Linked DNA regions of Homo sapiens: regions 1, 2, 3 and 5 are each linked to region 4. Evidence: fine-mapped expression QTL. A gene starts in region 4. Each other region holds a variant in brackets. All regions are shown on one strand. Distances are between the middles of the regions.

Region 1 (5,106 bases), 130 kb before region 4:
AGTGTCCATCTTTGGGGCCTCTTCCTTGGTTCTTCCCCAGTTCCAAATTCTAAACAAACCTGGACACTGGATGTGAGGCACTGTGGGGGATTCTAAGAGTAAAAATACACAACCAGTGCCCTTCGGGATGTTACAATCTAGGAAGGAGAGAAAGATACACAAATAGTGAAATATAAACCCAAGTGTTAAATATGCTCTAAGAAAAGTAAAATGTGGCCAGGCACACAGGCTCACACCTGTAATCCCAGCACCTTGGGAGACTGAAGCGGGAGGATCACTTGAGCCTAGGAGTTTGAGACCAGCCTGGAAAACATGGTGAGACCCCGTCTCTAGTAAAAAAAAAAAAAAAAAAAATTAATTAACTTAAAAAAAAAATAAAGTAAGCCCGGCTTGGTGGCATGAACCTGTAGTCCCAACTACTTGGGAGGCTGAGGCGGGAGAATTGCTTGAACCCGGAAGGCGGAAGTTGCAGTGAGCCGCTGGAGGTTGCAGTGAGCCAAGATCGTGCCACTGCACTCCAACCTGGTGACAGAACAAGACTCCGTCTCAAAAAAAAAAAAAAAAAAAAAAAGTAAAATGTGCTAAAAGCCAAGTTCCCAATTGTCTCCTGGTTACGGAGAAATAGATGTTCCCAATAACTCTCACGGTAACTATGGTTGGCATAAGGTGCATTTAGACTAGCTTTAACAATTATTTTCTCATTGAACTTCTTCACTCAGATACTGCAGTATTTCCAGACAGGTAAGTACCCTAACCTATGTAAAAGTCCCCTTAGCGCTTGTTTTACCTTCACCCTAGGAAATCTCACATTCAGAGGATACCTCATCAACATCATCTGCTCAGATGTCCTCTTGCTCAGCACTTGCAACATTAGTGAAATAACACATTGGTATGTCACTTTTTTGTTTCTTTTTTTTTTTTTTTTTTTTTTTTGAGACGGGGTTTCGCTCTTGTTGCCCAGGCTGTAGGGCAATGGTGCAATCTCACTGCAACCTCTGCCTCCTGGGTTCAAGCAGCCTCCCAGGTAGCTGGGATTACAGGCGTGTGCCACCATGCCCAGCTAATTTTGTATTTCTTTACTAGAGATGGGGTTTCACCATGTTGGTCAGGCTGGTCTTGAACTCCTGACCTCAAGTGATCCACCTGCCTTGGCCTCCCAAAGTGCCAGAATTACAGGCATCAGCCACTGTGGCTGGCACCCCACCTCCCATTTTATTTTTTCTTTAGCAGAGACGAGGTCTTGCTATGTTGCTCAGGCTGGTCTTAAACTCCTGAGTTCTCCCACCTCAGCCTCCAAAAGTGCTGGGATTACAGGCGTCAGCTACCATGCCTATCCACATTTTGTTTTTTTGTTTTGGTTTGGTTTGGGTATGTCACTTTTTGATATTAGGTGATCCAAAATAATTTATCTTGGTATGCAAGATGTTCAAGGAACAAACATCTACAATAAGGTACCAAAGTTTTGAATTATTTATCTGTGTATATGTATGTATACCCACACAGACCATTATGAGGCATTTTAGAAATCACTTTCTCACATGCATTCCAATATAATTTCCTGAGAGAGAAAGGAGTTCCATGCAGGGAGTTATACATAAACCACAGCCTACTTTTATGGCCATTTTGAATTACTTTTGTATTTCAAATTCACTTTTTAAAACTTCACCCATGGGGCGGGAGGATTGCTTGAGCCCAGGAGTTCGGGACAGCAGTGAGGTATGATCATGCCACTGCACTCCAGCATGGGCAACAAAGCAAGACCCCCATCTCTAAAAAAATCAATAAATAAAGGAAACTTCACCCATACCCACAGAAGAGAAAATTGTGAATGAGTGCATCAACATCTACAGTACACAAAAACAGTAGTCTCTGAACATTGTTAGTAGGGTCCTAACAGTTATGATAGCCAAGTGAAAACTCTCAAAGGAAAGTGAAAATATTCCTTATATCAATAACATGGAGGGAATCTACCAATTTTATGTTTTTAACAATAAATTTTATGCCTTTTCAAATAATGTGTACTTGTTTTATTGGTG[T/G]TGTGAGTAAAGGCTGGGGGAGAAATCATGATATTTAAAAATTAGATATGCTACATTTTGGCAATTCTTACATAACTGATTTCACTATTGTTGAATTCTTAACATTAAGTGAACATCTTTTGTTTTTCTTTTTGTTTTTTGTTTTGTTTGACAGGGTCTCACTCTGTCATCCTGGTTGAAGTGCATTGGTGCGAACACAGCTCACTGCAGCCACAGCTTTCTGGGCTCAAGTGATCCTCCCCCCCAACTTCAGCTTCCCAAGTAGCTGGGACTGCAGGTGTACGCCTGCCCAGCTAATTTTTTATGTTTTATAGAGGCAGTGTCTCGCTTGTTGCCTAGGCGGATCTTGAACTCCTGGGCTTAAGTGATCCTCCCACCTTAGCCTCTCATAGAGTTGGGATTATAGGTGTGAGCCACTGGACCCAAGGCTTTTCTTTTTTTGAAACAGTCTCACTCTGTTGCCCAGGCTGGAGTGCAGTGGCATTATCAGAGCTCACTGCAGCCAAGACTTCCCAGGTTCAAGCATCCTCCCGCCTGAGCCTCCCTAGTAGCTGGAACTACAAGCACTTACCATTACACCAGAATAATTTTTTTAATTTTTAATTTTTGTAGAGATGGGGTCTCACTATGTTGCCCAGGGTAGTCTCGAACTCATGGGCTCAAGTGATCCCCCTGCCTCGGCCTCCCAAAGTGCTGGGTTTATAGGCATGAGCCACCATGATGCCCAGCCTTAAGTGAATATTTAACAAAATGATTTTGTAGTATTATTTTCTTCATTTACTAATAAAATTGTTGCAGGGTGTTTTTTTTTTTTTCCTTTTTTCCCCAAATTTGAGTACATCCATGGAAATACATCATACAGATAAACATCATCCATTCTTTGTGATAATGTGGAAAAAAGATTAAGAAACTGCCCTTTAATACTATTTGTATTAAAGAGTATTATTTGGGGATATTTGGGGATAGTTGAGAAATCACTAACCGTTGATGGAAATTTGATTGGGTTTTTTGAGGATAGTCCAAAAGTCATCAAGTACCGATGGAACTTTATCATTCTAAATTCCTTAGAGACTTAAAATTATTTCTTGGAAACTTAAACTTCAGGCTAATGTTGTAATATCACAAGCATCCATGAACGTATCATTTTAAGTAAGAGGTGGTATCTTCTACTCTCCTCCTCTTCAGTCCAGGCCACTGTGATAATGTGCTTATAGATGTGGTAATGCCTCCTCTTGGTACCAAAGCCACATTCATTAGCTTTGTCAAAATAAATGATACCAGTGATACTAATTTCTTGCACTCTCAGTGATGGAACAGGATTTCAATGAAACAGTCCCTTTAGTTTTTACTTTTTTATCACAGCCCCCTTAAATTACAACCCCCTTAAATTAGAACTCTGGTGTGAATCTGTATGAGCTAGAATGGGTGAGAGGTTACCAGGACAGACCCTCGGAATTATCCTTTCACTCAAACACTGGCCTAGGCAGAGATCATTCTTCATGATCTCTGTGCATTTCTGCACATCTGGTGAGTGAAGCACTGACTGCCCTTCTTTCAGGACTCTCTCTTCAGGGATGTTTGTAGAGCAAACAGTCTTAGAGGATAGGAATAAGGTTTTCCAGAGCAAAGGGCAAGCAAGTTTATTGCCACTATAAAAGATTCAGGCTCCTGAAGCTGAAGGTTCCCCTTCTGTAAAGCAGCCCACTGCAAGGGCAGATGCCATCTGGCCTTCTTTGCCTCTCCCTATGGAAATTGGGACTTTGCTAACTAATGCCAAAAACAAACCACAAAACTGATACTCTGGCTATTGCTATGGCTATTGCTGTGAGTAAGAAACTCTTCATTCTGGCTCAGGACTATGATATCTTCTGCCAGCATCCATGTGCCAGGCGAACTTTTTAGCTTGTAAGTTGGGTGAAATCTGAGATTGTTTACGGTTTTTCACATTGCCTTAAACCAAATGCACGCGCTCTGACTCCCAAAAGGCTATTTTGTCCCTTATGTGAATATATCCTCCGGTGGACTAACTCCACCAGTGTTCCAGATGGACGCCCCCATGGCTGAGTCCTAGAGGGAACAGAGCTTAGACTTAAATCGGGACCCCTGCTACACAACTCTGCCAGTGTAAATTATTGTCATTATCCAAAGGCAGACTTCTCACTGTGCTCATTATGATGCCTATGTCACAACTAAGGAGGCCCTCCCCCTTGACATACACTCTGCCTCTGTCCTGCCGCTTTATATCCCATGGCTCCCATGAAGTCTTCCTCAGTTATTCCACCTGTGTTAGATCTTTTTCAGTTGCATGGAACAGAAACTCAACTTATAATTAAAGATTAAACGCTGGCTAATGACCAAAAACTAAAGTGATGAAGACATTCATTACTTGGTTTGTTTATCCTTGTATTCTCACAGTTAATTTCCTTGATTAAAAAAATATATATATATACTGACTGACGGGGCGTGGTGGCTCACATCTGTAATCCCAGCACTTTGGGAGGCCAAGGCAGGTGGATCACTTGAGGTCAGGAGTTCAAGACCAGCCTGGCCAACCTGGTGAAACCGTGTCTCTACTAGAAATACCAAAAAATGGCTGGGCACGGTGGCTCACAGCTGTAATCCCAGCACTTTGGGAGGCCGAGGTGGGTGGATCACGAGGTCAGGAGATCAAGACCATCCTGGTCAACGTGGTGAAACGCCATCTCTACTAAAAACACAAAAATTAGCCAGGCATGGTGGCACGTGCCTGTAATCCCAGCTACTCAGGAGGCCTAGGAAGGAGAATCGCTTGAACCAGGGAGTCAGAGATTGCAGTGAGCTGAGATCGAGCCACTGTACTCCAGCCTGGCGATAAAGTGAGAGTCTGTCTCAAAAAAATAAAAATAAAAAGAAGAAATATGGCCTGGTGCAGTGGCTCACGTCTATAATCCCAGCACTTTGGGAGGCCAAGGCGAGCAGATCACCTGAGGTCGGGAGTTCAAGAATAGACTGACCAACATGGAGAAACCCTGTCTCTACTAAAAAAACAAAATTAGCCGGGCTTGGTGGTGCATGCCTGTAATCCCAGTTA
Region 2 (5,106 bases), 46 kb after region 4:
TGAAGCCATGACCTGAGCTCTACATTGCTCCCTTTCTGCCACGGCTGGAGCAGCTGGGACACAGGGCACAAAGTCCCTAGGCTGCACACAGCATGGGGACCCTGGGCCCAGCCTATGAAACCACTTTTTCCTCCTAGATCTCCAGGCCTGTGATGGGAGGGGCTGCCACGAAGACGTCTGACATGCCCCGGAGACATTTTCCCCATTGTCTTGGGGAATAACATTCAGCTCCTTGTTACTTATGCAAATTTCTGCAGCTGGCTTGAATTTCTCCTCAGAAAATAGGATTTTCTTTTCTTTCATATTGTCAGGCTGCAAATTTTCTCAACGTTTATGCTCTGCTTCCCTTATAAAACTAAATGCCTTTAACAGCACTCAAGTCACCTCTTGAATGCTTTGCTGCTTTGAAATTTCTTCTGCCACATACCCTAAATCATCTCTCTTGAGTTCAAAGTTCCACAAATCTCTAGGGCAGGGGCAAAATGCTGCCAGTCTCTTTGCCAAAACATAACAAAAGTCACCTTTGCTCCAGTACCCAACAAATTCTTCACCTCCATCTGAGACCACCTCAGTCTGGATTTTATTGTCCATGTCATTATCAGCATTTTGGTCAAAGCCATTCAACAAGTCTCTAGGGAGTTCAAAACTTTCCCACATTTTCCTGTCTTCTTCTGAGCCCTCCAAACTTTTCCAACCTCTGCCTATTACCCAGTTCCAAAGTTGCTTCCACATTTTCAGGTATCTTTTCAGCAGCACCCCAGTCTACTGGTACCAACTTACCTTATTAGTCCATTTTCATGCTGCTGATAAAGATATACCCGAGACTGGGCAATTTACAAAAGAAAGAGGCTTATTGGACTTAGAGTTCCAGATGGCTGGGGATGCCTCACAATCATGGTGGAAGGCAAGGAGGAGCAAGTCACATCTTAAGTGGATGGCAGCAGGCAAAGAGAAAACTTGTGCAGGCAAAGTCCCATTTTTAAAGCCATCAGATCTTGTGAGACTTATTCACTATCACGAGAACAGCATGGGAAAGACCTGCCCCCATGATTCAATTACTTCCCACCGGGTTCCTCCTGCAACACATTGGAATTGTGGGAGTTACAATACAAGATGAGATTTGGGTGGGGGCACAGTCAAACCATATCAGCTGCCATATGTATTATGACAACTGTGGTAAATTTTATGGAGAAAATTAAAACATGGTAGTGAAAATGAGAATTTTGTGGGATAGCTTAGGTTACCATTTCAGTAGAATGACTCTTCCTGCAGAGATTCTAATAGACAGCTTGAGCGTTCCATGAAGTCTCTTCTTTAATTTGTCTCTTTGTTTTAGCACTTTAAAACATTATTATTTTGTTTTGAAAACATAAATTACTTTGGGGCAGGTTTTTTTTTTTTTTTACTATTTATTCAGATATCTATTGAGAAAGATTTTTTGTGAAGTGTAGTACTCACTTGTATGTTTTCTAAATTATTATTTAAAATTATTTCTGTAACTAGCAAGCTGTATTTGGAGTGAATGCATGTTTGACTAGTATCCATCCATGCTTGTCAGATAGAAGGAACTGCACAGCATTCATTGTAAGATGCAACAGGAATAAACGCAGTTTGTAAAGTTATAGGGATGAATTATAGTCGCATTTTCCCTAACTGCTCATCTCAAAATTAGTCACACAGGTTATTCCCTTAAACACACATCCTAACTCCAAAATAATTGGTCACAATAATTGGTCACAAAATGATCTTTCCTTTTTTTTTTTGAATGCTTGTTCATAATGAGATCTTCAAAGGGAAATACCATGTTCATCTTTATTGTCATTGTTTTCATATTATAGTTGTTCAGTAAATATTTGTTGTCTAAATTAAAAAAAGAAAACTATATGAGTCTAGTTTGGGAAGAACATTTTATATTGTTAATAATACAAACAATTAAAATAATGATAGGCAAGGGATTTAAAATATCCAGAAAAAGGCCGGGCACGGTGGCTCACGCCTGTATTCCCAGCACTTCGAGAGGCCGAGGAAGGCTGATCACAAGGTCAGGAGATCAAGACCATCCTGGCCAACATGGTGTAACCCCATCTCTACTAAAAATACAAAAATTAGCTGGGTCTGGTGGTGTGTGCCTGTAATCCCAGCTACTTGGGAGGCTGAGGCAGGAGAATTACTTAAACCAGGGGGTCGGAGGTTGCAGTGAGCTGAGATCGCGCCACTGCACTCCAGCCTGGTGACAGAGCGAGACTCCATCCCCCCAAAAAAATTCAGAAAAAGTTTCAGACTCTCATAAAATGTATCTGGCTATTTAAACCAGCCATTTGTATTTCTGATAAAAGCAGGTGCTTCTGGTCAAGTTCATATGTATTTATTTTGAACATTGGCTTTGGGAACCCAGACAGCTAACTCTATAGTCCATAGTTTTATACATGCCAGGTAGTGCATGTGGATCTAACTCCATAGTCCATAGTTTTGTACATGCCAGGTAGTTTTGATCATAATGGGTAATAAAAGATGAAAAATAAAATGTTGAAATGCAAGACCTATATTTAACCCCAAAGCATAAACCTAACAATTTTCTCAACTCCTGTCCCTTGTTTTTGTGGTAAATTTTGTGTGATGTTACTTTGAAATAGACGAGGAGCCTCTCCAAAGACAGTCAGCAAAAAGGATGACATTAACTTTAATGAGGCTCTCCTATGAGAGACAGTATGAGGTATTATGCTGGACATTTTTAATAGTTTGTTTTTTGTTTTGTTTTGTTTTGAGACAGAATCTCACTCTGTCTCCAAGGCTAGAGTGCAGTGGCGTGACCTCGGCTCACTACAACCTCTGCCTCCCGGGTTCAAGTGATTCTCCTGCCTCAGCCTCCCAAGTAGCTGGGATTACAGTCACCCATCACTACGCCCTGTTAATTTTTGTATTTTTAGTAGAGACGGGGTTTCACCATGTTGGCCAGGCTGGTCTTGAACTCCTGACCTCAGGTGATCTGCCCACCTCGGCCTCCCAACATTTTAAATAGATTTTACATGTTGAATATCCCTTATCCAAAATGCTTAGGACCAGAAATGTTTCAGATTTTGATTTTTTTCAGATTTTTGAATATTTGCATATACGTAATAGGGATATTTTGGGGATGGACCCCAGTCTAAACACAAAATTAATTTATGTTTCATAAACACCATATATATATATATATATGTATGTATAA[TA/A]TATATATATATGGCCTGAAGGTAATTTTACACAATATTTTAAATAGTTTTGTGCATGAACAAAGTTTGTATACATTAAACCATGCAAAAGCAAAGGTGTCACCATCTCAGCCACTCATGTGGAAATATGTGGTTGTTTGGCATCACCATTGTTCCTGACTCTGAATTTATATGCTACCAAAAAGCCATCATTTTCTTATACTTATCCACATATAAATACTTAACAGTAAAAAAAAATGACTTACCATTAATACACTGAAAAATAATGTGTTCAGGATAACAAAGCAGCACAGTTGCATCACCAGAATATCTGTACTGGCTGCTAAACAACAGCAGCTACAAACAACAGCATGCTTGCCGTCTCCACCTATGATGCTGTGTTTTCATTAAAAGGTCACTGTATGCTGGGCGCAGTGGCTCACACCTGTAATCCCAGCACTTTGGGAGGCAGAGGTGGGCAGATCACGAGGTCAGGAGATCAAGACCATCCTGGCCAACATGGTGAAACCCTGTCTTTATTAAAAATACAAAAATTAGCAGGGTGTGGTGGTGCGCACCTGTAGTCCCAGCTACTCAGGAGGCTGAGGCAGGAGAATCACTTGAACCCAGGAGGCGGAGGCTGCAGTGAGTCAAGATCGTACCACTGCACTCCAGTCTGGGTGACAGAGTGAGACTCTGTCTCAAATAAACAAAAAGCAAAAAACAAAACAAAACAAACAAAAAGTCACTGTACAGGTATTTTATTTTATTTTATTTATTTTTAGGTGAGAAGAAACATCAGAAGCACTTGAAGGACCAGAAGGTGGGTGTTCTAGGGATGGGGAGGCAATCTGCAAAATGGCTTTTTAGAAAATTTCCTCCAGAGTTATCTGTCTCATTAACAATGGTTTTTTGTCTTAGAATTTTCTCTTTCATTTTATAAACTGACATGATTTGTTCAATTATGAATGTACACTGATCTAGTCCTTCAATAATCCATCACACGTTTTACCCATGTCTTCTATAGGCACCTTTTCTTTGGTGTTAATGACATCATCTTCATCGTCACTATTATTGTGATCATCTTGATCCAGAACAATTTCAGCTATTTCACCATTGGTCAATGAATGAACAACTGGAGGCTCATTATCAATGTTAAAAGCTTCTTTGATATCTACTTCTTCCAGCTTACTGATGCATATATATTATTATTTTGCATATATAAGGTCAGACATTCATGTTTTCCTCACTTGACATATGAAATCCTTCAAAGTCACTACTTAGTTCATCATCATCATCACTGCACATAGTCACAGGTTAGAGGTTGCAGGCATGCAAAACTGTATCTTTAGTCATTGTCTTCCAAGCATTGGCAACAGCATGTATGGCATCTTTCATGCTAAACTCTTTTTGCAAACCTTCCACACCCACACCTCTTGTCACTGCTGCTAGCATGCTGTTCAGGAAAGTGTTTTTATATTTACTCTTCATTGATCTAAGGATACCCTGGCCACATGGTTGAATTAATAAAGTCACATTTTGGGGAAAGTAGATGGCATAAACATTTTTGATGAGAATTTCAGCAGGAGGGTGAATAGAACAGTTGTCACGTGTAACAAAATCTTGCAGTCATCCTCCAGTTTAGCTTCCCTGCAGTGAGCATGAACTTCTGGTACAAAACATTGGAGCACCAATCAGAAAATATGTCCCTGGTGATCTGTGCACTTTTGTTAGCATAATAATAGTCTGGTAAGAAATCCACTCCCTTAAAATAGTGAAGACATAAGCTTTTGCCTGTCACAGCAAGTTTACAATGTGTTTGTGTGCTGCATTAGCATATCCCAGTACAGTTATTCTGTCCTTGGCATCCTTAATTCCTATAGGGGCTTTCTCATCAGCTGTAGTCAGTGTCTTCCTG
Region 3 (5,106 bases), 33 kb after region 4:
AAAAGAACTTACCACTAGATTCCTGTATCAGTCAGGAATAGCTTCAGCTGTGAGTAAAAAAAAAAAAAAAAAAAAAAACAAAAAACAATGGCTTAGTCTAGAGCTGAGGTGGCCTGGTACTCTTGTAGCTTCCATTCCCAAGGTCACCTCTTGTTTCAGCTGGGCTACTCCAGCCATCACAACCATATTCCAGTCTGTCTGAAGGAAGAAAAGAATAATCGGGGGCAAAGGACCCATCAGCTCTCTTATAAAGACGGTTTCCATGAACTGCCATACTTTGCTTACCTATAAGAAAGAGAAAAGCATGGCCAGGTACAGTGGCTCACCATGCTTATCCCAGCACTTTGGGAAGCCAAGGTGACTGGATCACTTGAACCCAGAAGTTCAAGGCCAGCCTGGGTAACATAGTGAAACCTTGTCTCTACAAAAAATATAAAAATTAGCCGGGTGTAGTGGCACACACCTGTAGTCCCAGCTACTAGGGAGGCTGAAGTATGAGGATCACTTGAGCCCAGGAGGTCGAGGCTGCAGTGAGCTGTGAGTGTGCCACTGCACTCCAGCCTGGGTGACAGAGGGAGATGCTGTCTCAAAAAATGAATGAGAAAAACAGCACCTGACATCTAAGAGCTGCCCGAGCAGTCACAGTAAAACTTGGTGTTGTCCTATTAAATATATGCAATTGCAAAGAATACCAACATTTGACAAAGCCATTCTGTGACCATGATGGATCGATATAAACACAAAACTACACCATAATTATGCCTGAATACAGACAAAAACATGAACATTGTCCAAACTGTAAAGTGACCAAACATCTCCCTATTTTGCCTAATATGGTTTGTTACCAATTACAGCTTTGACTATGTTTCATTTCCCCGACAATGTTTTAATATACCCAGTCATAGAATTGCCCTTGCTTCCTGATGGCATCCAATCCAGAGTAAAGCCCTGGTTCCTTCAGCCCTTCCTAAAACCACCTAAAGCAAGGCAAATCTTATTTAAAGCCTTTCTAATACTCTTTTTACTGAGACACCCATAGTTCCCCATGGTGCATGTTCTCTCTCATAACAAGGAGTAAACCCACCTTATTCAACCACTAGCATACTCCTGTGATTTTTGGGTGGAGGGCATTGACACGCATCTATCATTGGCAATAAATTAGTTACAGGGTCATACTCATTTGCAGGAGTTGCTGAGAAAAGCAGTCTTTTCCTTGGGTCATCAATTGCTCACTGAAAATTGGAGTTTCTATTGTCATACGAGGGAGGGTGTAAAGAGTCAACTAACCATCTCTTCCTCAATTTCCAAACTAAAGAAAGCCAAGAGGCTTTTAAAAATGTCACCATCAGTCCAGGCGTGGTGGCTCACAGTTGCAATCCCAGCACTTTGGGAGGCTGTAGTGGGTGGGTTGCCTGAGCCCAGGAATTTGAGAACAGCCTGGGCAGCAGAAAGAAACCCATCTCTACAAAAAAATTAAAAATAAAAAAATTAGCCAGGCATGGTGGCATATGCCTGTAGTCCTAGCTACTCAAGGAGGCTGAGGTGGGAAGATTGCTTGAGCCCAGGAGGTCGGGGCTGCAGTGAGCTGCGACACCACTGCACTCCAGCCTGGGCAACAGAACAAGACCCTGTCTCAAAAAATAAAAATAAAAATAAAAAAAATAAAGGTCACCATCTAAAATAAATGTGTGCTAAGAAGCAAGTTGAGTTAAGAAAATGAATAAATAAGCCATGTAGTTGACAGACTCAAGAAGCCAAGTTGTAGTTTCAATCTTTCTTTCAAAAAAGGGAAAGATGTCCCAAATGGGAAAAGCATAGACTCTACAAAGGAGGGCAGGCCAAGCACAAAATAGAAATCAGTTGGACCAAAACTAAATACAAAGAATATTCTGCAGAATAAGACATCCTTTGTAAGCTCCATTCCAACAGGAGAAAACAAACAAACAAGGAAATGATTGTTGATGTTAAGTGCTGTATAAATAAATACTGCTAATTCTGAGTTACCATTTAAGTAAAAATGGAGGGAGGGACTAGTTCTTTCTGGGAAATGGAAGAAATATTGGTGCCAGTCTCACAGGGGAGATATTATCTTAGCTGTGCTTTGAAGAATGGGTAGGAATCTACTAACATAATACAGGTTTTTAAGAAAGTAATTACAAATGAATGGATTATTCTGCATTGGGC[G/A]TACACAAAGGTTATCATTTTTGAAAAAGAATGCTGCCAATGTGATGAGGTTTTAAAATTAATTAGAGTGAGGCCGGAGCAGTGGCTCACGCCTGTAATCCCAGCATTTTGGGAGGCTGAGGCAGGCGGACTGCGTGAGTCCAGGAGTTTGAGACCAGCCTGGCCAACGTGGTGAAACCTCATCTCTGTAAAAAAAATTTTTTTAAAACTAGCTGATTGTGTGGTGCTTGCCTGTAGTCCCAGCTACTGGGGAGGCTGAGGTGGAAGAATCACCCGAGCCTGGGAAGCAGAGAATGCAATAAGCCAAGATCGCACCCCTGTACTCCAGCCTGTGCAACAGTGAGACCCTGTCTCAAAAATAATAATAATAATAATAATAATAATTTTTGTCTAGATTTTCCTGTTGAGAAGTTGCCTTCAATGTCCTTGGGTCAGCTCTTTGTGTTTTTATTTGCTACAGGTAAGCTCATTAGACTTTTTTAAAAGGCAGCAAACAGATATTGCTGGGTTCATCACTTAACAAAAAAAGTCATTGTTATAAACTTAGTTTCATGAGTGTTTCTTCAAAGATGCTTGTTAAAGTCCCATCAAAGAAAGGATCCCATGGCCTAATGAAGATGTACCTCCACCTTAGGATATTTTGCAGACCAAAATAAGACAGGAGTGGTGAAGAAGTAGAAAGAGAACAATGTTCTCTTGTATGTTGGTCTGCCACTAAATGCAATGTTAGATGACTGATTTCTATAGTTAATGAATGGTAATAGTAGCTAACATTTTTGATCCTTTATATGCATTATTTCATTTGAATTAATACATATAACAACTCTATAAATTAATTATCATTCATTCTGATTTACAGATATCCAAGGTCACATAGCATGCAAGTGGCAGAGTTGACATTTAGACACAGGCATTTAAATTTTAGAATTTGAACTGTTAATCATAAAGCCTATGATACCTTCGATTTACAACATATACTAAATAATATACCAGTATATTATTTGTAAGTGAAGAGTCGAGTAAATACTGTGTTTAAGGACAAAAAAAAAAAGAGAGAAAGAAATCAGCTGTTTTGAGCAAACATATGTCAAACACTGTACTGGGTGCTTTCCTTATATTATCTCATTTATTTATTTATTATTTGAGGCAGAGTCTCGCTCTGTTGCCCAGGCTGGAGTGAAATGATGGGATCTCAGCTCTCTGTAGCCTCTGCCTCCCAGGTTCAAGCGATTCTCCTGCCTCAGCCTCCCAAGCAGCTAGGACTACAGGTGCATGCCACTGCGCCTGGCTAATTTTTGTATTTTTAGTAGAGACAGGGTTTCACCATGTTGGCCAGGCTGGTCTCCAACTCCCAACCTCAGGTGAACTGCCCACCTCAGCCTCCCAAATTGCTGAGGTTACAGGGGTGAGCCACTGCACCTAGCCTTATAATTTAATTTAATTTAATTTTCAAATCACCTGTTACAAATCACCTCCTACAAAATAGGTACAATGTTTCAGTCCCATTTTATAGATATGGCAACTAAAATTCAAAGAGCTTAGATAACTTACATGAGGTAGCTTCAGGTCTGTCTGACAGTAACATTGATGCTGTTAATCACCGTGAAGTGCTGCCTACATATTCACAGTTGTGTTTCAACACTGAACAAGGTATTTGCAATTTTTGGTAACATTTCTAGGTTAAGTCAACTTTTAGCTTTCTACATTTTTTAATTTTATTCAAAACATTTACAGGTTTATCATATTGCCTACAAATGTCACTTAGAGAATGGAGAATCATTTTAATATTAAAACATAATAAAAATTATTATATTTGCTCAGAAATCATCTGATACTTTAAGATATGCTAAAGCTAACTATAAATGACTTTTAAATTATGCTATTCTGGATAATTCACAACAGTATTCCCTTCTGTTAATGGAAATGTAAAATTAATAGCATCTTTTAAATCCAGAGTTTATGTAAAGTGCAGTCACAAATCACAATTAATAACCATGCCCCTCTAACTAATGTTTTCCTCATTTGAGTTTTGGATGTCACAAAATACCAGAATTATAGAATCTGAAAGCTGGGCAAAAGTTCTTAAAATTACGTAGTCTAACATCATTTTACAGATGAGGAAACTGAGGCTTCAAGAGGTTAAAATAATTTGCCCAAAGTGATGAAACAGGTAGTGCCAAGGAGTGGCTGGAGGAGGCCTTCCTACTGTCAGCCCTCACCCAGCCATATTAAACATAATACCGTCTAAATAAGTAAACACACTATCTAAATAGAAATGAGCTTGCTATGTAATAAAACTTGAAGACCCTAAAATCTATTGGAATCCCCCCCCCCAAATCACTTCAGATTTACTTAGATAAAAACAGTGTGCTTGTGTGCAATCACAGATCATATCGCGGTTTTTTTTTTTTTTTTTTTTTTTTTAGACGAAGTCTTGCTGTCGCCCAGGCTGGAGCGCAGTGGGGCGATCTCAGCTCACTGCAACCTCCGCCTCCTGGGTTCAAGCAATTCTCCTGTCTCAGCCTCCTGAGTAGCTGGGACTACAGTTGCACACCACCACACCCAGCTCAGTCATGCCAGTGGTCATTCGCTTTCTACATATATTTTCAATGAACGAAATAAAGTAAAATACACTCATTATAAATAGTTTTTTAAAGAATGTAAAGGCTGAGCATGGTGTCTAATGCCTGTAATCCCAACACTTTGGGAAGTTGAGGAAGGAGCCCAGGAATTCGAAACCAACCCGGGCAAAATAGGGAAACCCTGCTTCTACAAAAAAAAAAAAATTTTTTTAAAGTAGCCAGGCATGGTGGTGCACACCTGCAGTCCCAGCTACTTGAGAGGCTGAGGTGGGAGGATCACTTGAGCCTGGGAGGTAGAGGCTGCACAAGCTGTGTTTGGGCTACTGCACTCCAGCCTGGG
Region 4 (5,106 bases):
ATTAGCCGGGCGTGGTGGCACGTGCCTATAATCTCAGCTACTCAGGAGGCTGAGGCAGGAGCATCGCTTGAATCTGGGAGGCAGAGGTTGCAGTGAGCTGAGATTGCGCCGCTGCACTCCAGCCGGGGCGACAGAGCGTAGAGCGAGACTCCGTCTCAAAAAAAAAACCAACCAACCAACCAACCAAACAACAAAACCCAAAAAAACTAGTTTTAAACATCTTAAATATTCAAAGTATTTTCTTCTACTTTTGCTAGAAAGTAGTAAAAAAGGGACTCCATCCAATTGCTGTAAATGACACCATTCAAAAGATACCAAGACAATAAAAACTCTCAATAGTAAAAAGGGAAAATGCCGTTTTCCTTAACCCTTTCAGATCAAAAAGTAATTTTTCAAAAATACATAGGCTAAATATCAAGAGCAAATGTTTAAATATAAGCAATATTTTTATTTTTAATAAGGAATAAGTTAGATTATTTAACTTATATTTTCAATCTTCAAAAGATACTGAGAAAACTTTACTTCCGTCCTCTATTATTGGTCTGGGGAGGCGGGAATCACAAAGCTCAACGATGCTAGTATAATACTGTGTATGGTCAAGGGCCTATTTTATAAGCTGTTAAAAATTTAACGCTAAAGCTTTACTAGACCAGTCTCTTTAAAACGTGAAAAAGTATTCACTACTAAGTCATATCACCTCCACCATAAAAACTACTGTACTTTTTAAACAAAAAATAAAAACTAGCCAATGTTTGCTGCCCATTCATTTTACAGGCATTAACTGTGTATCCTTCTCATAATCAGATTTCAGAATTAAGTGATTATTCTTCGAGGTGTACCTTACCCAAGATAAAAATTTTCCCCAGCTTATTTCCCATTCCCAACCCCCGCCAAGACTAAGGAGCAACCACTTCCCAAAGTCCCACTTCCTTTTTCATTCCCCAGACCTACAGGGTTTCCAACGCCCCAGTCTTGCGCAATATCCGTAGGAGCAGCAGCCGCAACCACCGCCTCCTAAGCCGGGAAACAACCCTAGAGGGAACATTGTCCAGCAGAAAAATAAAAAGGGCGGGGGTTGGGGGGGTGGGTAACGTAGGAAGTCGACTTCTGGTCTCACGCCTTCGGATCTGACCCCCTCACAGTGTGCTAAAGCAATAGTGTATCTAGAGCAATTTCATGAACAAGACTTTTAACCTTCACCTCCTCTCAAGACTGCCTGCACAAGCAGAGGGCGGAAAGTAGGGGGTGGCGGAGGCGGGGGGGCGCTGGGAAGGTTATCTCCCAGTTCAGGGCTTCGGCCCGTAGCGTCGCCTCCGCCCCACCAGGACTATTGTTCCCAAGTTCCCCACCCCCACCCCGGATAGGAAGTGATAGTCACATCCCCTCCGCCTTCGGCAATATCCCCTGGGGAGTCCGAAGTCGGCTGGCTTCCTTCAGGATAATTCCCCCACCCACACTTATCCCCTGAACCTATAGTCACACGGACCCCAAGACCACCTCAAACCTGGGCCTCAGGAGAGGAGAAGCGGGACGCGGGTAAATGGAAATTAGGTAAACCCATGAGATTCCTTATGGGCAATCCTTTCCCAAGCGTTGGAGATCATGACTGCGACCCCAGAAACGGCCTAAGTCCTACCCTGCCCGCTTTGAGACCAGCTAGAGCAAAGGGATCCCAGGAGTTAGTGCCAACCTCAATACCCCCGTTCCTCTGTCAGCCACGATCTGCACTCCTCCCGGTCACAGCCAGATACCTTGCCTCGACCCTCCTGGGAGGAGCGAACTGCGCGGGGAGGTGTGGAAACGCGAGCCCCCCCCCCCGGCCTGCACCTCACTTGCCTACGGCTCCCGGCCCGGTAAACAATAGGTGGTCGCGAGCCACGGTGCAGGCTGCGGGCTCGGCCGCGCGGCCGCTCCCTTCGCGTCCCGGGAACCCGCGCGGGGGTCGCGAACATGGGAGAAGAAAGGAGGCCACGGGGGGAGGCGCTCTCGCCTCCCGCTGGCCTCCGAGACCACCCGGCTCACCCGGCTGGTGCGCGCCCCCTCCGCCCCTCTCCTCACAGAGGTACACAAAGCACTGGCGGCCCGGCCGGGAGAGGCGGCGATGGGCTCCGGCGCCGGCAAGAAAACGCGACAGCGAGGGGAGAGACTCACCATGAAGTCCCGGGCGAAGTTGTCCTCCCCATTGTGGTCAGGACTCTTCATGGCCTGGACCCTCTGGATGAATTTCCTCAGGATCTCCACTTGCTCCATCCTCCCGCGTCCCCCCGGCTGCGGTCGCTGGCCCCCCCGCCGCCCGCCCGCCCGGCACAGAGCCCGCTCCGTCTTCCCCAGCTCGTTCCCCCAGCACGTCCCTCCCTCCCGACCCCGCCAAGCCCCGCGGCTCCCTCCTCCTCCCCACCGCCCTAGGCGGCGGCTGCGGCGGCACCGGCTGGGCTCCCGACACCACAACTTCCAGGAGCAGCCGCCGCTCTCCCACAGTACCAGGCGAGCCGCTGCGCTAGCGCCAACCCCAACCCCCAGCTTGCTCCATCCTCCTTCCCCGCCCTCCTCCTCCGTCGGAGACGCCGCCGCCGCCGCCGCCGCCGCCGCCGCCTCAGGAACACAGCTAGCTCTCCGCTCGCCCTGCCCCCCCTTCCCGGTTCCTCCTCCCCCCCACCCCCCGCCAGCAGCCGCAGCCGCAGCCGCAGCCGCCTCTCCCCACGGGCGCGTCCCCGCCGCCACCCAGATGCGCGGCCTCGCGCTGCGGCTCCGCCCCAAGCGCTGCGCCCGCAGATGCATCCCCGCCCGCCTCCCGGCCACGCCCCCAAGCCCGCCCCGCCGGCCCCAGCCCCGCTTGGAGTGGCTGGAAGGCACTTCAGCGGGCGGCCTGGAGACCTGACTCCATTTCCGGGGCGTGGCCCCGCCCGGGGTGCTCAGAGGTCGGAGTATCGCTGGGAGGAGAGTTGGTTCATTTGGAGGAGGGAATGCGACTCTGAGCGGGCCAAGCCCTAGTGGGTCAGAGTAGGATTCTGATGGAATTTGCGGTCTCACCGCCTACTAGGGAGGAAAAGCAGTTTTCAGGAGTCCCGCACCGCCGCCAGCCGTGGGCTGGGACTACAAGTCACGGTCTGTGGAGTCCAGGAGTGGGGGCGGGCGGGAGGCAGGCTGGGAGCTGTAGTAGTGTCACCGCCACGTTCGCAGCAGGTAGATGCTCATCTTGCTAACGGATTGGTGAGAGTGGACAGCAATTAGGCTTTGGCACCTTGGAGCGTGGCTCCAGCTAAGGGAAGCGAAACGCTTCCTGGGTGAGAGGACTTTTATTCTTTGCTCATCCTCTTAAACCTGGCGAGTGAGCGCCTGAGGTTCGGAGTGCCTTCTTCACAGACGACGCGAATGTGGGGTCTTCGTGTTTGCCGAACTGAAGGGAATTTGCCTTCCTGCCTTTAGGTTCGCAGCAGTTCATAACTGAATAAGAGACTTTCCTCCATAGAATGGACTTTATAAATCTATTAATTTTTTTTTTTTTTTTTTTTTAGAGCTAAGGTCTTGCTCTATCTCCCATGCCAAAGTGCAGTGCTATGATCACGGCTCGCTGCAGCCTTGAACTCCTGGGCTCAAGGCATCCTCCTGCCTCACTACGTCACCAAGCCCAGCTAATACATTTTAAAAATTTATTATTTATTTATTTATTTATTTTTGGTAGAGAAGGGGGTCTCACCAGGTTGCCCAGGCTGATCTCGAATTCCTGTGCACTAGGGATCCTCAGCTTCCGAAAGTGTTGGGATTTTAGGCGTGAGCCACCGCGCCTAGCCTATAAATCTTTATTCATCTTTGTAAACTTCTATCAGAGAATATATTCTGGTCTAACTCATCATTTTACAAATAAAGCGACTTCCTGACATCCCCCAGCGTATTCTTAGCAGAGCCGTAACTAGAAGTTATTTTACTTTCACAACAGTGGCCTCTCACAATGTGACAGAACTGAAGGATTTGATCCATGAACTGACTTTCGTCATTTATACCCACAAACCTTTTTTTACAGAGCAGATTGGTCAGCGAATTTGGTTATAATAGGAAATATCAGTGGTAGAATACTTTCTCAGATGAAAGTTAGGAGCACTATGGAATTTAGTGAAAAACTCATTGAAGAAAATAGGTGTAGGCCGGGCGCGGTGGCTCACGCCTGTAATCCCAGCACTTTGGGAGGCCGAGATGGGAGGATCACCTGAACCCGGGAGGCGGAGGTTGCAGTGAGCTGTGATCACACCATTGCACCCCAACCTGGGCGACGGGAGTGAGGCCCTGTCTCAAAAAAAAAAAAAAGAAAAGAAAATAGGTGTAACAGGATATAGTTTATTTACTTCTTCAAAAAAAGGAAAATATTTCTGTTAAAATAATCCAACTAATACATCCACTCCAGAAATATGCACTTCAGACCAGGTGCAGTGGCTCACACCTGTAATCCTAGCACTTCGGGAGGCCGAGTTGGGTGGATCACTTGAGGTCAGGAGTTCGAGACCAACCTGGCCGATATGGTGAAACCCTGTCTCTGCTAAAAATACAAAGCCGGGTGTGGTGGTGCACGCCTGTAGTCCCAGGTACTCCAGAGGCTGAGGCAGAAGAATCGCCTGAACCTGAGAGGCGGAGATTGCAGTGAGCCGAGGTCGTGCCACCACACTCCAGCCTGGGTGAAAGAGCGAGAGTCTGTCTCAAAAAATAAAAATAAAAAGGCCAGGCGCGATGGTTCACACCTGTAATCCCAACCCTTTGGGAGGCCGAGGCGGGCGGATCACCTGAGGTCAGGAGTTCAAGACCAGCCTGGCCAATATGGTGAAACCAACCCCGTCTTTACTAAAAATACAAAAAATTAGCCGGGCGTGGTGACGCATGCCTGTAATCCCAGCTAGTCAGGAGGCTGAGGCAGGAGAATTGCTTGAACCCAGGAGGCGGAGGTTGCATTGAGCGAGATCACGCCATTGCACTCCAGCCTGGGCAACAAGAGCGAAACTCTGTCTCTAAAAAAAAAAAAGAGCCTCCCTGCCTGATTCTCCTGCCTCCGCCTGCGGAGTGCCTGCAATTGCAGGCGCGCGCCGCCACGCCTGACTGGTTTTCGTATTTTTTTGGTGG
Region 5 (5,106 bases), 29 kb before region 4:
AGTGTACATTATATACACAGTGCAGTATGTATATATGTAATATATTACTACTGGTGTTAAAAAGAAATAAAAACATTTGCATTTGCTTGTACATATGCATATATCATCTCTGGAAGAAAAACTATTAACAAAGTATGTGTCTGTGGGGAAGGGAAATGGGTACCTAAGGGAAACGGATGAGAATGAGACATTACTATTATGTCTTTTCATATCTTTTGGATTGTATGACTGTATTGCCTGTTCAAAAAATTGAACGTAAATAAAAAAGGACAGTAGAAAAGATTGTTTATGATGTCGTTACTCCATATTAACAAAGATCCTCATGGTTACTTATATACGCATCTTGCACATTTAATTAGAATGTTTGTATTTTCTCTGCTCAAAGATTAAGCATCTGAAAAGATGTATTTTTAGATACTTATAGTATCAGTGCATTTCAAAATATTATTTTGAATCTGACTTAGAGAAGGATATCAACTTAAATAGTTGCAGAAACACAGAGGGGAAAGGAATATATCTTAGGTCAATGTCAGCGAGAAAAAATTTAGTACAAAGAGTGGTTGAGTTTAATTATAAAATGTGAATGTACCTCAGGAATGCCTGGTACAATCACTCTAAGCTTTTTCTTTTTCATTCATTCATTCACTCATTCACAGACGGAGTCTCACTCTGTTGTCTAAACTGGAATGCAGTGGCATGATCATGGCTCACCATAGCTTCAAACTCCCATGTTCAAATGATCCTCCTGCCTCAGCCTCCAAAGTGGCTGGAACCACAGGCTCATGTCACCATGCCCAGCTAATTATTATTACTATTTTTTGTAGGGCTGGGGTCTCCCCATGTATGTTGCGGAGGCTGGTCTCGAACTCCTGGGCTCCAGCAATCCTCCTGCCTCAACATTCCAAAGTGCTGGGGAATACAAGTGTAAGCCACCATGCCTGGCCCACTCCAGACTTTTCTTCTTTTACATGACAAATTACATTATTGAGAAATGTGCAAAACAAAGCTTTTATGTGAAATGACTACATTTCTCATAATGAACCTTGAGAACTTTTGCGTCCAAATATTTATCTTATTTAAGTTTGGATTTTCATTTATCCAGTTTTCTTAAAGCCTAGCATGCCATTTCTTAAAATGCTTTCTATAATTAAAGTTTAAAATGGAGAATGCTCTATTAAAATAAAAATCTACAATAGTGTTCTTAGCAATTTTCATGCCCATCAGAGATACAAAAGTGGTCCATAAAACAAGTAAAAACTTTGTTTTGTACTTTAAAAAGGTATCTACAAGTTGGAACTTATTTCCCACCAAAAAATGTCAGCTTTATAGTAAGCTACATAAATTAAAATTCTGGATCTGGTACTTTCTTAGCTGTGTGACAATTAACATATTTAACCTCTCTGTGTCTCATCTATAAAACTGAGATAATAACCTTTACTCAGCAAAAGGTCTAGTACATAAAATGGCTCAATAAATGTTAACTATTATTATTGAACTAATTACTGGAACTCTTTAAATGTTGTTACTTCAGATTTATTTCTTTAAAACCTTTCCTAGATCAAAGATCAGAAAGAGTTGCATATTCCAGGTCAATTTATCTGCCTGAAATTGCAAAGCAGTTTGTCAAATTTGAGTGTGCTTCAGAATCACCTGGAGGGCCACATTGCTGGGCCTCATCCCAGTAGTTTCTGATTCAGTAGGTCTGAGGTGGTAATTGCCTGATAATTTGTCTTTTTAAAAGTTGCTAAGATTCTACTTTAAAAAAAATCCCATGATAATCATTTTTCTGTGTCTTTGTGTATGCTTTTTCTTTGCTTGTTGGTGGTCTCCCCACTTGCACACCTCCAAAGCTTACTTATCTTTTAATTTTAAGCCCTAGCTCCTACAGAGTTTCTGATGCCCTTCCTCCAGACATAATCTTCCCCTCTGAATTGTTTTACCTTTATATGTACTTTTAGAACACTTACATTTCTTACTCTTATGATAAATATATAAAGAGAATACATCTAATTTGCCCTGTTAAACAATAAACTCTGTGGGTACAAAATTACCACCAGATTAAGATCTGATTTGGCCTAGAGCAGGTTTTTTTTTTTTTTTAACACATCAACATTAATGTCTAAATAGTTCCTGAATAGAAGTAGCACCAAAGTTCATTTAAACTCTATGAAACAGAATTATCTACACATATAATTTCATTTTAACTTCCCGACCACTATTCTATTGTCTCTGATGAAGCTATTACTAAGAAAGAAACAAAAAAATTCTGTATTATTGAGAAACATAATATACTAAGAAACCTTATTCATAGACTGTATGAGAATAGCACTAAACATTAATAAAATAATTCATTTATTATATAATTTAATTATTTCATATAATCCTAAAGCAAGAAAGAATTTTTAATCATTTACTGTATTAACTGGGCAAAAATATAGCTAAATGATGTCCGTATTAAGTTATAGGTACCCACCACAC[C/A]CTTTATCGTGTGACTTTTTAAAAAAAAGCTAAGAAAACAAACAAATCCTTTAAGAAAGCATTTGCAATTAAGTCTACCCTAAAGATCTTTATTGAGACAGGGACTCACTCTGTTGCCCAGGCTGGAATGCAGTGGTGCAATCACAGCTCACTGCAGTCTTAAACTCCTGGGCTCAGGTGATTCTCCCACCTCAGCGTCCCTTAGCGAGTAGCTGGGACTATAGGCACGCACCGCCACGCCTGGCTAATTGTATTTTTTGTAGAGATGGGGTTTCGCCACGTTGTCCAGGCTGGTCTCGAACTCCTGGACTGAAGCCATCTGCCCACCTTAGCCTCCCAAAGTGATGGGATTACAGCCATAAGCCACTGCACCAGCCTACCCCAGAAGTCTTTAAAAAGTCACATAAATGAATTCCAAAAATAACTGCACTCCTTTATTACTGTTCTAAAAAGTCAAGTCTGACCATTTTACTCCCACATTTAAAAACTCTCCTATGTGTCTATCACCTCTAACATAAACTACCAAATCTTTAATTATAAGATATGTTGAATGTTGCCTGTCCAATTTTCTAGCCTCTTTTTATAATGCTCTTATTAGAGTTTGATGCTTTAGTCATATAGAATTACTCACCACCACTATGACTAGCAGTAACCCTCCATTTCTTAAATATCAAAGTTGCACAATTTTTGCTCTTACTGGTGAGTAGGGCTCTGGCTAAAGTGTTATTTCCTTTTTGAAGGCTTTCTTGAACCTTCCCTCCTTTACTGCTCCTCAGCCTTCTGCAATGAGTCCATAACACATTGTTCTATTGCCACTTGTGAAAAGTATTTCTTAAGTATTTCAGTACTTGTCTGTCTCGTCCACTAATCTATAAAACTGAAGGCAGAGATTAGACTATCTTACTGGACTTTATAGACCAATAGCTAATGCAAAGCAAAACTCTCATTACAAATTGAAGAATTATTTACTGAGCCTTCTCAGACAAGTCAGAGAAACATTTTTAATACTTAGAATTTTTGATACAAACAAAATTCGAGTTTAATATTCACTTTGCTTTAAACAATTTCCTAAAACACTAAATTTGTATTCCCCTAATCCTAAATCAATAAATGGATTCTCAAAAGCCTCCAAAATCACATGCAATGTGACTTTAAGATACCCACTTGTGTGTCAAGATTCAAGTTCTTAAAAGAGTGGAACAGTTCATTGTTCATCTAAGCTCCTGAGAATGTTTAAAGTTTGTTAAATCTCTCCAGAGTCAAAGAGCTGTCTATTGGCCTGTCCACTGGATGTGTAATGGGCATCACAAACATGCCCAAATAGCACCACCATTCAACAGCAGTTCAAGCCAAAAACCACCACCATTCAACAGTAGTTCAAGCCAAAAACCTAACACTCATCCTTGATTTGTTCCTTTATCTCGCTCTTCTCCCCATCAGCAAATCTTGTTAGCAAAAATATAGCTAATTGTCTTCATATTCACTGAAGAGACTTTGAAGTGAAAATACATTTAGACAGACAAGCGTTAAATTAATTTGTTGGCTGGATTTTAAATCAGCACAATTAAGAAAACAATAAATTAACACAAAAAGAAACAGCACTAAAATGGAAATTAAGCTAACTGAAATTCCTTTCGGAATAAGATGGGATATATAGAAATTAAGTATCAAAGCTGAAGCTCTCTCATGCTCTGTTATTAGACCACACACCACTGCCTCAAATTCCTCAATGTTATAACACTTAAAACACAGTACGAGTTTCAGCTGGGTGCGGTGGCTCATGCCTCTAATCCCAGCACTTTGGGAGGCCAAGGCTGGTAGATCACGAAGTCAGGAGATCGAGACCATCCTGGCCAACATGGTGAAACCCCATCTCTACTAAAAATACAAAAATTAGCTGGGCATGGTGGCGCATGCCTGTAATCCAAGCTACTCGGAAGGCTGAGGTAGGAGAATCACTTAAACCAGTAAGGCGGAGGTTGCAGTGAGCTGAGATCGTGCCACTGCACTCCAGCCTGGCACAAGGGCGAGATTCCGTCTCAAAAAAAAAAAAAAAAAAAAAAAAAAAAAACACGACAACAAAAAACAACAACAAAACACAGTATGAGTTTCATAAGGCACAACTTTTAGTAAATATGCATATAAGAATATACAAATATTAAAACTATACTTTGTATAGTAAATAAAAATGGAAATTACTTTAAGCTTAAGAGTTATACTGTGGCAAAATATTAAGGCTACCTAACCCATAAAATCATACTCCTTTTACCTAATTGCTCCGGAAAATTTCTGAGGCAATTACTGGAGAATTCATCTGAATTTTAAACGGTAGCAGGTTTGGGACATAGTTCACATTCAATAACCATTGTTAAATAAATAAATTCATCTGGCTTTATATTTGAAAATTTTAACTGTCCTCAGTAAGAAAAACCACACCATCTTAATAGTATTAATTTAACCCTACAAACTGCATGATAACCAAACCAAAATTTCTTAAAACCCCAAATATAAATTAATAGCAGCATACAGTAAAATTAGAGTACCAGCCAAAGTAACACTATACTATCTCAAAGTAACACTGTATTATCACTATTTTATCTCTAACTTTACAAACATACTTACATAAAA

The links. PIP is the estimated chance that this variant, and not a neighbour inherited with it, causes the effect.
Region 1: its variant is fine-mapped to the expression of PTPN12 in whole blood (INTERVAL, PIP 0.90).
Region 2: its variant is fine-mapped to the expression of PTPN12 in whole blood (INTERVAL, PIP above 0.99).
Region 3: its variant is fine-mapped to the expression of PTPN12 in whole blood (INTERVAL, PIP 0.97).
Region 5: its variant is fine-mapped to the expression of PTPN12 in whole blood (INTERVAL, PIP 0.98).

What each region holds. Positions count from the first base shown.
Region 1 is chr7:77,666,428-77,671,533 of GRCh38, reverse strand. The region is part of intron 1 of APTR (Alu-mediated CDKN1A/p21 transcriptional regulator); the gene reads left to right. Among named protein-coding and RNA genes, the nearest start is that of APTR, 27 kb to the left of the region's middle. The variant T/G (reference allele first, on the strand shown) is at 2,037.
Region 2 is chr7:77,489,016-77,494,121 of GRCh38, reverse strand. No RefSeq gene overlaps it. Among named protein-coding and RNA genes, the nearest start is that of PTPN12, 46 kb to the left of the region's middle. The variant TA/A (reference allele first, on the strand shown) is at 3,209.
Region 3 is chr7:77,502,024-77,507,129 of GRCh38, reverse strand. No RefSeq gene overlaps it. Among named protein-coding and RNA genes, the nearest start is that of PTPN12, 33 kb to the left of the region's middle. The variant G/A (reference allele first, on the strand shown) is at 2,185.
Region 4 is chr7:77,534,691-77,539,796 of GRCh38, reverse strand. PTPN12 (protein tyrosine phosphatase non-receptor type 12) reads right to left here and starts at 2,502. Exons shown (of 18, transcript NM_002835.4): 1 at 2,152-2,502. The coding sequence starts at 2,250. It overlaps LOC124901681 (a long non-coding RNA gene), which reads left to right and starts at 2,848. Exons shown (of 3, transcript XR_007060395.1): 1 at 2,848-3,426; 2 at 3,516-5,106. RefSeq lists silencers at 1,963-2,012, 2,153-2,362, 2,613-2,912 and enhancers at 2,983-3,202, 3,373-3,422.
Region 5 is chr7:77,564,190-77,569,295 of GRCh38, reverse strand. All of the region lies in intron 1 of PTPN12 (protein tyrosine phosphatase non-receptor type 12), which reads right to left. Among named protein-coding and RNA genes, the nearest start is that of PTPN12, 29 kb to the right of the region's middle. The variant C/A (reference allele first, on the strand shown) is at 2,479.